3 linked regions of the Homo sapiens genome follow. The protein of the gene in region 3 purifies or fractionates together with the protein of the main gene of each other region. This does not show direct contact. Each region holds a gene or a part of one and is shown on either strand. Other genes may lie near its edges. The genes, in order: KANSL3, PGM1 and FAH.

Region 1 (3,649 bases), on a different chromosome or scaffold from region 3:
TTATTCAGGCAGATGTGCTTAAAACAGCAAAGTAAAACCACAGTCAGCTCTCAATTATCTGTGAGCTTCACAGCAGATTTGCAGATTCAAACAACCACGGATAGAAACCTGTGGATATAGAATTCCAACGGTATGACATAATTTCATATAAGGGACTTGAGCATCCATGGATTTTGGTAGTGGTGAGGGTCCTAGAACCAATCTCCTGTGGATAAGAAAGGCTGACTATACATATATGTCCTATCGGCTATTTCTCCTTACAGTAGAGGATACAGCACCTGTAGACTGGAACATTTACTCACTTGCAGACCAGGACATTTACTCACTGCATTTATTCAAGGCCAAGGAATCCCTCTGCCCAAGCTAATTCCAGCTTCACGTCAAGCCTCTATGATCACTCTAAGACCCAGAGGCCCATCCTATGGATTTAGCTCCAGGGATGCTTTCCCAGGACCACCCAGAAGCAGCAGACCAAAAATTCTGTGTTGGAAGGGGAGAATGCTGGGCCACAAGATACCTGGGAGGGAGCTGCCAGGAGATGTGGCCACCAGGCGGCTCTGCAGTGTGTGCAAGGCACTGGGTGCAGTGCTGCTGGAGACCACTGAAGGGACTGGGCTGGCTGAGACTCCACCTTCAGAAGAACTGGACCTGGAGACAAAGGAAGGAGCTCTGTTATCCAAAGGTCACAGGACAGCAAGCCCTAGCAACACTGGCAGGGTACAGAGTGGGGCCCAGCAAGGCTTTCAGCAGCAGACATACACCAAAAACCTTCAGCTTCTTTGTCCCACTTTCTGTACCTGGCCTCTAGTCTTCTAAAAGTCCTTACTTACAGGACTTATAGCAAAAGCCAGGGGACGATTTGGAGTCTTAAGTAAAAGTGAACTCTGGGTTGACTCAAAAGCAAGACAAAGATCCCAATCAGAAGTAAGTCACATTTCCAAAACTGACAAGAATCCAGAATCCATCATTTTCCAAAGCACTAAATAAACCAGAAACAGAGGGAAGGGAAAAAAGGAATAGACACAGATGGTCCAATAAACACTCACTTGGCTGTGGTGAGAAGTCCTGTGAGCTCCTTGGCCCCTGCTGAAGCCTGCCCCAGTGTCATGGTGATGGGCTTCCCACCTGCAGCTTCAAAACAGAAAACCCCAAGGCCCCTGGTCAGTCCTATTTGGCCTCTATGTTTCCAGGTTCCACAGCTTAGGCTAAATGCAAGATATTACGGACGAAAACTGGAAAATGAAAAAAGATGAACTATGCTAGAGTAGGGAGAGTTGGGGTTATTTTTTCCTTCTATTTTCTAAACTTCCTGAAATATTCTGTACCTTTAATTGAAGCCAACAAAAAAAGAACAAAATATAGGATGCTTTGAACGATGGCACAGCTTCCTCTCATATTCTGCCTGCCTGGTCCTCATTCAGATGGACTCATGCCAACTTTACCCACATGTACAGACTCATGTCTTCTTTGCTCCGGGCATCTCTCAAAATAAAGCAAAGGCTGACATGCTGGTGAATGGCCACCAAAGGGCAATGCTGTGTACCTGAGAGAGCTCAGTTCTCATTTAACGTACCAAGAGAAACTCACCTTCTGGAGCACTTCCTTGGGAAGGAGCACAAGGCCCTCCAGCTGTGTCCCCTTGGGAGATAAGGGACACCTTGATCTTCGGTCGTTTGGAGGTCTTACTGCCAGGAAGGGGACTCGAGGGATGGTGTCGCTTCAGCTGAACCCTAAGATCCTCTTTCTCTCCTTCCTCTGGTGGTTCTGATGAAATGGGAACTAAGACATGGAGCTGAGTTGAGATCCTCCACAATCCAAAAAATCCCAACAGACACTCAGTCAATACCAGCACCAACACAGCCATGTGTAGAATGTAGAACACACAGGATAACCACTCTACGTACAGGGCCACCCCTCAAAGGAGACTGCCCATGCTTCAGGACCACTTCACTCAGGCCCTGTCCGTGGGGGACCCCACTTTGCCCTTCTTAGAGGATGGCACCCTTCTCATCCCTCATCCTGCACTGGAATCGGAAGAGAAGGGGCCCTGAGTTGGTAGGAATTAAAAGACAGAAGACATCCTGACCCTGCCTAGCCAAGGCCAATGGCAACAACAACAAAAATAGAGGATTCAACAGAATGAGTAAACAGTCCTTCTCAGACTCAAAAAATGTGATCATCTTCCTGTCTGAAGCCCTCCCCACATCATCACACAGTTGGAGACATCAAACATTCTATGAGAACTCATGGAGGAGCAGGTCATCCAGTCCTCTCTAAAAAGTAGAGTTTTCCAAAGGCTCTCAAGAGTCCCACCCTGCCCTAAGAGCCCACAGTTGAGGATCCACTTGCCAAATGGAGGCAATGAAGAGGAGTGTCACCAGGACTAAAAGCTGGCTATGAGTAGCTACTAGGAGAGAGAGTACCTCAACCAGGCAACCTCACGGCTCCCACCCAAAAGTAACAGGGCAACACTGGCCCATGTCACAACCTAGTCCCCAGGTCATGTGTACTAGTACAGACAAAGGCCATCTGTTCACACATGGGCTTCCACTTCCACTGAATCAAACAGGCTCATCATGTATACAGCCAAGCTTTTTGGACTCTTAGGTTATCTTTCAAGCTTCCTCAAAGATTCCCTCCTCTTTAAACCCAGAAGTCCACCCTAGTCCTCTTGTAGCACAGGGAAGCAAAGACTGGTGTGGGGAGGAAGGTAGCAGTCACATGAGGAGGGAGGAGGGGTCCTGGCATGAGGCAACAGTCAGGACATAACCAGCTAGAAGGATTGCTTAGGGGACAAATGCACTGGCTAAAATCAGAGTAGGAAGGAGGGTGTAGGGGAAAGGAGTTTCAGGTTCTATGCTGATATGTGGCTGGTAGGCTTGTAGCCACCAGATAAACACAGGACAGGAGGCAGGGAGAAAAACACACAAGGAAACTGAGACTCAGGCAATGCCACAGACATACAAAAAAGCAGCAGAGCCAAGACCGTAGTGAAAGAAAGAACCACACTAAGAGACAAAAAAGAAAACACCATGAGAAGCAAACAAAAGAATGGAAAAAGGGCAAAGACTACAGAGTAAGCAAAAGGGGTCAGCAAAACAAAAGAATACAAAGAAAGAGAGAGAAAAGAACAGGAGGAAACCAAACTGAGGCAGATGAGAGGCAGAGATGGAAAATAAATAAGGGGTTGAGGAGCAGAATGTAGTGGACGAGCAGGCAAGAAAGAGTAATACTCACCAAAGAGACAGGAGGAGGTGCCAGGAGGAAGAGCTTTCCTCACCAGCATATTTTGTTTCAGAAAAGCAGCAAACTGTGCTGGAATGAATCAGAAAGAATTACAGAATCACAGCCAGCCAGAGAAGGGAGAAAAAGAGAGGGAATAAGAAAAAAGGTTGTAGAAAATGGCCAATAGGGGCTCCTTCTGAAATTACTGCATGGCAACCTGACTCTGCCACGGAGTCAGTCTGTAGAAGCATCTAAAACTGAATAGTACTATCTGCCTCATGGGGCCATGCCAAAACTCAACAAACTACAGCAATGCGAGTGCCATGAAGAAGGCATGGCACACAGCAAGGACTCCATATATGTTCGCTATTAGTATTCCCCGTTTGCCCATCAGCTCTGCTAAGCCAGGGTTCTAAAGCTGCTA
Region 2 (3,649 bases), on a different chromosome or scaffold from region 3:
TGAGTACAGAGAAAAGCTAAATGGCTCCCCAATCTAGTAAGGGGAAGAAATAAAATTCTAATCCATTTCTCTGAATCCAAATCCAATGTTATGATCATGTCCACCCAATGGACACATTTAAAATGCTTATAAAGCATTTATTCTTTTGATTATGTTAGCTAAACTTTTAAAGCCTCACTCTTTATGGCTGACATAAAAATTGACTTCATTTCATCCCTGACCAGATTATTTTTAAAGTCTCCAATTGAGAGAGGCTGGATGACCTAGGGTTTTATTAGCACTTAAGACAGGAGAGGCTGTGGATGCGCAAGAATTCTCTCTGCCCACTTCCCCACCTTACCTTGTACCCCAGCTGGGCTGTGGCTCACCTGGTGAAGAAATTCCGGCCATACTTTTGCCAATGATCTTTGAGAATGTCCTCCACACTCTGCTTGCGGGTGGCTAGGATGGAGAGCCAGGCAAGGACAGCCCACAGTCCATCTTTCTCACGGATGTGGTCAGAACCTGGAGGGGGGACAGCAAGCTGCTGTAAGAAACGTGCTTTCTCCCAGTACCTGAGAAGGTACTTGATATGGTTTGGCTCTGCATCCCCACCCAAATCTCATGTTGAGGGAGGGACGTGATGGGAAGTGATTGGATCATGGGGGACAAAGTTCCCCCTTGCTGTTCTGGTGATAGTAAGTGAGTTCTCATGAGATCTGGTTGTTTAAAAGTATATAGCACTTCCCCCTTCACTCTCTCTCTCCTGCAGCCATGTGAAGAAGGTGCCGGCTGCCTCTTCATTGTTCTGCCATGATTGTACATTTCCTGAGGCCTCCCAGCCATGGTTCCTGTACAGCCTGCAGAACTGTGAGTCAATTAAACCTCTTTTCTTCATAAATTACCCAGTCTCAGGTAGTTCTTTATAGCAGTGTGAGAACAGACTAATACAGTACTCAACAGTAGGTGTGCAGACCCAAATAAAAGAGTCACACTGCCTGACTGAGGACTTGGGTATACAGGAGGAATCACATATTAAGTAGGCAACATGATACTGAAAAGAAATTGATGCTTCCCAAAGTGATTTAGAAATGTAAGGCATAAGTCAATAAAAATGTCAGTGAGATAATTAGGTGGAATTTGATATATCAGTTATAAAGTATTAATGTGAAGAGAAAACACAATAGATCTTAAATGAACAAACAGCAGAAGAACATGACCATTACAAAATTTCAATAATTCAAATAGTCTGGTAGCTTAATAGAACAAGAGTGCATCTGGAAAGAGATCCAAGCACACAAGAGGCTTGAGTATGACAAAGGTCTCACTGCAAGGCTGTGGGAAAAGAGTAGATTACTTTTTAAATGGCGTTTGGATAACTGGATAAATAGCTTTAAAAAATTGTTTTCTTCCCTATAAAACACCATAACAAAAATAATTCCAGTTGAACTAAAAATTCGAATGTAAAACCTGAAAGCTTTTAAATACTAGTATATATTATATTAATATACATGTCTTTTTATATATTTATATATATAAATCTTAGGGGTGATAAATAATGTAAATTCGGTATTCATAAAAGAAAACACTGATGTATTTATCTACTTAAAAATCAGCATTTCTATAGTGTAAAACTACTATGGACAAAATTAAAAGCCCATTGACAAACTTTAAAAAATTAAAGAGATCTGGTTGTTTAAAAGTGGATAGCACTTAAGGTAGATGTTTAATACTATATATATATATATATATATATATATATATATATATATATATATATATGTAAAATTTTATTTTTTGAGACGGAGTTTCGCTCTTTCGCCCAGGCTGGAGTAAAGTGGCATGATCTTGGCTCACTGCAACCTCTGCCCCCCAGGCTCAAGCGATTCTCCTGTCTCAGCCTCCCGAGTAGCTGGGATTATAGGTGCCCGCCACCATGCTCAGCTAATTTTTGTAGTTTTAGTAGAGACAGGGTTTCGCCATGTTGGCCAGGCTGGTCTCGAACTCCTGACCTCAGGTGATCCATCCGCCTCGGCCTCCCAAAGTGCTAGGATTACAGGCGTGAGCCACCATGCCCGGCCACATTTGATATATTTTAAGGCAGATGTTTAATACATTCAATATAGAAAAAATTCTTATGTATGAATAAGAAAAAAGAATTTCAATAGAAAAACAGGCCAAGGATATCAATAGGCGATTTGCCAAACAATACACATAGACACATACACCCAACCAATTAGTATAATAAAAAGCTGGTGTTATTTTTAAGAAGAAAAATTAAAGTTAAAACCACAATGAGAAACTGCTACTTGCTTGACAAAAGGTGTAAAAATCCACAAGTGTAAAAATCCGAACAGCCAGTGCCAGGAGAATAAAAGGGAAACGGGATTCCACCAAAGAGCTGGTGGGAGTGGACGCTGGCACAATCCTTCTGGACATCAATTTGGCAAAAAAGGATCAAAGCCTTCAAATTGGACCTACTCATGGATCCAGCAACTCCAAGACACTGTTCTTTAACCATTAAGGTTTGGTTAAACAAACCTTAATGATGTCTCTTAAAGGAGACATCTGTCTCCTGCTAAGGTCCTTGCTAAAATCTTTAACAAAATTTTAAAATGGGCTTCTCGGGAGGATGTGCTTATATGCATGGACACCCTTTTCCAAGAGCCTGATATGGAACACAACTCTCATTTTTTTGCCTTTAAACTCTTTATTCTGAAAGAAAGCAGTCTACATGGAGCCTTATTTTCTGATTTCTGAATAGAACTGTACACAATTGCTCTATAATCATGCTCTCACATTATCCTATGTTGAATTCTTTATGTGCCTGCCCTACTGCACTTCCCGCTGGTCTTATTCTTCTTGGAATTGTTAGAGTATCTAGCACCATGCTGGGTATGCAGGAGGCACGTGGTGTTTTTCCTTCCTCTCTTCATCTTTTCAGACCCAGCTCAAATGTCCTCTCTTTTTTAAGACTAGCTCCCAACTTCCCTAGGCAGTCATGAACTCCCTTCTCTTTCTTCTCCTGTAGCAACCTGCACAAAACATCTGGGGTGGCATCAGCCTCCTCGAGTCTCAACCATCTGTTTGTGAGCCTTTCTCCCCACTAACTGTGTGCTTCTTACGGGCATCTCTTATTTATCCTTGTAATTAAGTCTGGTGACTAGCATAGCACAAGGAATACGGTAAATAACTAATTATGAAAGACTGTGTGAATGAATCAACCAATCAATTTACTCCAACACTTTCTCTTTCTATTTTTGGTTCTTAAAAAAACATGACTTTTTCTTTCAAAAGACTTTTCTCTTCAATAGGATACTACTTTTAGAAGTTAACAGTCCTCAAAACCCGGATGCAGGCAAAACTAGAGAGTAGGCAATATTTTTAGTGCTTTATATAACATATTTTAAAAATGTTTACCTAATTTTACTATCTTTAGACTTTTATTTGCCCTTACTGCTATTTTAAGGAGCAAAAAGCTCTCTGGCTCTTACGGCTTTTGCAAATGATATGTTTTGGCAACAGTTCATCCTGAGAAGCAAGATTCTGGCAGCTTCCCTAATATATTGGGAATTCATGACAGCATATACAGCTTGGAATTATTTGTCTGTGCCCCACTGGGTTTTTTTCTTCCTTCTTTTTCTCCTTAATTTTTTTTTCTTTTTTCTCT
Region 3 (3,649 bases):
TGCCGAGCTCCTCCAGTGATGGGCAGTGTGCTACTTCACAACGTACTAAACAATATTTACTAAACATCTACTACATGCAAGGTACCGGGCTGTTGCCGTTCCACTTCTGAACAGCACTAATAAGTAGAAAGCTCCTCTGCTCCCTCAAAACCTGGCTTCCTCCCTTGGTCCTAACTTCCCCTCTGAGGTGGCACAGAACAGGTGTGCTCTTCAGCCATGCGAGGTCTGGGTCTGCCAAGGCTGCTCCTCCCCAGACCCTTTCGCCCAGATCCCAACTCAGAACATCAGAACTGCAAATGCAGGACTACATCTCTGGACACTGTGCTTTCTGGATAATCTTGTCCCTTTTCTACCAGTGGCCTCCCCCGGGCGGGCAGGTTCACCTCTAGGCAGCCAGGAATACTGAGGACAAAACCAGATAGAAAGTATACTCCAAGCACGCATTGTGGGTGGCAGGAGGCCAACCTAGAACTTGTGACACACTTGGATTGAGTCCCAGCCCTGCCATTAGCCAGGTAGGTGGCTCGGGGTGAATCCTTTTCCTCTCTGAGCCTCAGCTTCCTGACCTGGAACCTGAAAGAGCGGGCCCAGCACAGCTTCCCAGAGGGCCCTGGGCAGCCAGGAGGCTCTCTGTGACAGCTCTTTCTCCATGGAGCATCCTGCTCCCATGGCGACAGCTCCTGCAGTGTACTGCGCCTCCTGACAGGAACCACCTCATGAAGGGCCGAGACCCTGGAACTGACAGTGAGACAGACATGGCAAAGCCTGGAGTGTACAGACAGAGCAGACAGAAGAAAGAAATGGAGCTGGCCGGGCATGGTGGCTCACGCCTGTAATCCCAGCACTTTGGAAGGCCTAGGTGGGTAGACCACCTAAGGTTAGGAGTTCAAGACCATCCTGACCAACATGAAGAAACCCCATCTCTACTAAAAATACAAAATTAGCCAGGCATGGTGGCGCATGCCTGTAATCCCAGCTACACAGGAGGCTGAGGCAGAAGACTCGCTTGAACCCAGGGGCAGAGGTTGTGGTGAGCCAAGATCGCACCATTGCACTCCAGCCTGGGCAAGAAGAGTGAAACTCCATCTCGGGGGAAAAAAAAAGAAGAAAAGAAAAGAAAAAGGAATGGAATGGAGCTAAAAAGGAGATTTGGCCAGAGTGTGGCTAGGAGGTCTGTGTGTGGCCACCAGGCAAACCCTCCCCATCCGAGGGCCCCCGTTGGGATTGGAAAATGACACCTGACTCTTTCTAGGTACAGACCCTGTCCCAGACCTTTGCATGAATTGACATGTTTGGTCCTCACAACACACCATGAGGTCAACGCCGCTATTATCCCATTTCATAGATGACAAATGAGGACATGGCCAGGTTTGGCAACTTGCCCAAAGTCCCACAGCTGAGCAGCAGAGTCATGGCCTGCAGAGCCAGTCTCTTTATTACCAACGCCCCATTGGGCCTGTTCGCGGAGGCGGGCTGAGCAGCCACAGGGAGATGTGGGCCCTGTCTATGTCAGGGCTGGCCCAGGGTGGGGATCTCGGGTCTGTCTGCAAGACACTCAGGGCTGGCCCATGGTGGGAATCTGGGGTCTTGATGCGCTGGCTCTGTGTGGCCCCAGGGGCTCAGCCAAGCGAACAGACCCACAAGGACATGCTTTCAAACAGGCACTCAATGAAATGTGCCACCCACCACGGAAGTGAGGGTCAGTGGCGATATGTGAGCAGGAGCCAGGCAGCCCCTGGAGAGGCTGGGGAGGGGATTCAAGCAGAAGATGGAAGTCCCGGACTCCATCCTTTCAGCCCTACCACTGAGAGCTCAGTGACAGGGTTAATGCCCTATGGGCCCAGTTAGGTTCCCAGTGAGCACCAGGGTGTCCCCTCCCCTCCCCTCCTCTTTCCTTTAGACGAGCCACACACATCTCCAGGGCTGTAGCACGTGCCCTCACCCTTGCCAAAGCTCAGGAGCCTTCAGGACAAGGCACACAGGCACACATTGCCTCAGAGCTCCTGGCCATGTCAGTCCCCCTACAACATACCTTTCAGGTTAACAGAGAGGTTGATGTCAAATGTGTAGGGCTCGTCATGGCACAGATACGGCAGGGGCCTGGGGTCCTGAGAGGGCAAAGCACAGCACAGAGGTCACTGGCAGGTGGGCTGAGCTCACCCGGCTGGGCCCCCATACCAGCCAGGCCCCCAGCAGCACCTGCTCCCCTAGGCAGAGGGTCTGAGACAGCAGGAGCATTCCCTCTCCAGGGACCCAGCACTGTGTCCCTGGATAGCAGTAGGGGGGATCATACTGTGGGTCTCTAGGAAATGCAGCCAAGGAAGGGGCATCAGCAGGTCAAAGGTCACAGGAGCCAAACCAGAGATGTTCCTGAAAGCCACAGGAGGGGAGAGAAAGGGAAGGTGGGCAGCAGACAGGCCGAGATGGAGAACAAAGCCTGGCCTGTGAGGAAAGGCTGGGCCTGAAAGCGCATTGCAGGGCCCCTGGAAGGCAGAGGGGTCACAACAGAAGTAGACAGCCCTGGCTGGTGCTGGAGCCAGCTAGGGAGGCAGCTTGGATGGCTGGGCCAGAACGCCTGCACTCCGGCCAAAAGCAGTGTTTTCCAAAGCATGGTACATGAGTCACCCACGGGACATGAGATCGTTTTTGGTGATACTAATGGTTATGAAACAGTGTAGCTAGTGATGCCAGTAGGAATATAAAGTTCCCTTCTTAATATATTAAGTTTAAACTGGGAGCCACTCTGAAGGAAAACATTAAGTAAATAATAGTTCAGAGGGGGAATAGTAGTGTTGTACCTAAATGGTGTTGGGGAAGGGCTGGCACAGAGGAAGGCAGGCAAAACCCTGTGATGACCGACCCGGAAGAAGGCAGATGACTGGAGGACAAGCAAAGAGAGGCTGTGGCCTTGCAGCCCTAGGGAGACTAGACAAGGCCGCTGCCAGCTAGAGAGAAAGTCAAGTCCTGGCGACTGAAAATGACCAGGGTGGGCAGGGGGTGCTGTGGTAGGGAGCAGCGAGGAGAGAGCAAGGGATGAGGGTGAAAGCCCCACAGGACTTCACTAGAACTGGCTTGCAAGGAAAGACCTCAGGGTTGTTTGTAGCACAGCAAACATGAGATGACCCCAGAGGCAGAGGAGCATGGGAGAGCAGTGTGGGTGCAGGACCAGCACCGGGTGTTGGTAGAGGCCCCCAGCAAATGCGTGGTGAGATGCTCAAGCGAGGATGTGCAAATGGCTGGGAGCTCAGCCTGGATCCCCACAGGGAGGTCAGAATTGGAGAGGGGCATCGTGAGGACTCAGAGACACTGGAGAACGAGGACAGGTCACATGCCAGAAACCAAGGGGTGAGGGAATGCCAACAAGAGTGAGGGGCCACAGGAAGTCCATGCTGAAGGGGACACAAGGTCATGACACTGACTATCGGGTCACAGGTGACTCTGGCCAGGTGTTGCCAGTGATGGAGTGGGGCAGATTGCAACAGGCTGAGAAGGGAGGACTGGAACCAGGGGTCAAGGCCTAGACCCAGTGGTAGACCAAGCGGTGCCGGGAACCAGAGGCTGCAGGGACTCCCTGTTGCTGGGCTCCAAGCTGCATTCTATGAGTTGGGGTCCAGGTGGCGCCATTTGCACAGAACAAGATTTGATGGCC

What was found.
Region 1: the proteins of FAH (region 3) and KANSL3 purify together in Homo sapiens (co-immunoprecipitation; one large-scale study listed by IntAct). This does not show direct contact.
Region 2: the proteins of FAH (region 3) and PGM1 fractionate together in Homo sapiens (co-fractionation; one large-scale study listed by BioGRID). This does not show direct contact.

The regions. Positions count from the first base shown.
Region 1 is NC_000002.12:96,603,733-96,607,381, forward strand, and holds part of KANSL3 (KAT8 regulatory NSL complex subunit 3), read right to left. Parts: intron 3,316-3,649; coding exon of another isoform or gene 3,238-3,315; intron 1,806-3,237; coding exon of another isoform or gene 1,780-1,805; coding exon 1,588-1,779; intron 1,132-1,587; coding exon 1,047-1,131; intron 649-1,046; coding exon 518-648; intron 1-517. UniProt on the Homo sapiens protein: Non-catalytic component of the NSL histone acetyltransferase complex, a multiprotein complex that mediates histone H4 acetylation at 'Lys-5'- and 'Lys-8' (H4K5ac and H4K8ac) at transcription start sites and promotes transcription initiation.
Region 2 is NC_000001.11:63,645,372-63,649,020, reverse strand, and holds part of PGM1 (phosphoglucomutase-1), read right to left. Parts: intron 505-3,649; coding exon 369-504; intron 1-368. UniProt on the Homo sapiens protein: Catalyzes the reversible isomerization of alpha-D-glucose 1-phosphate to alpha-D-glucose 6-phosphate. The mechanism proceeds via the intermediate compound alpha-D-glucose 1,6-bisphosphate.
Region 3 is NC_000015.10:80,173,475-80,177,123, reverse strand, and holds part of FAH (fumarylacetoacetase), read right to left. Parts: intron 2,109-3,649; coding exon 2,033-2,108; intron 1-2,032.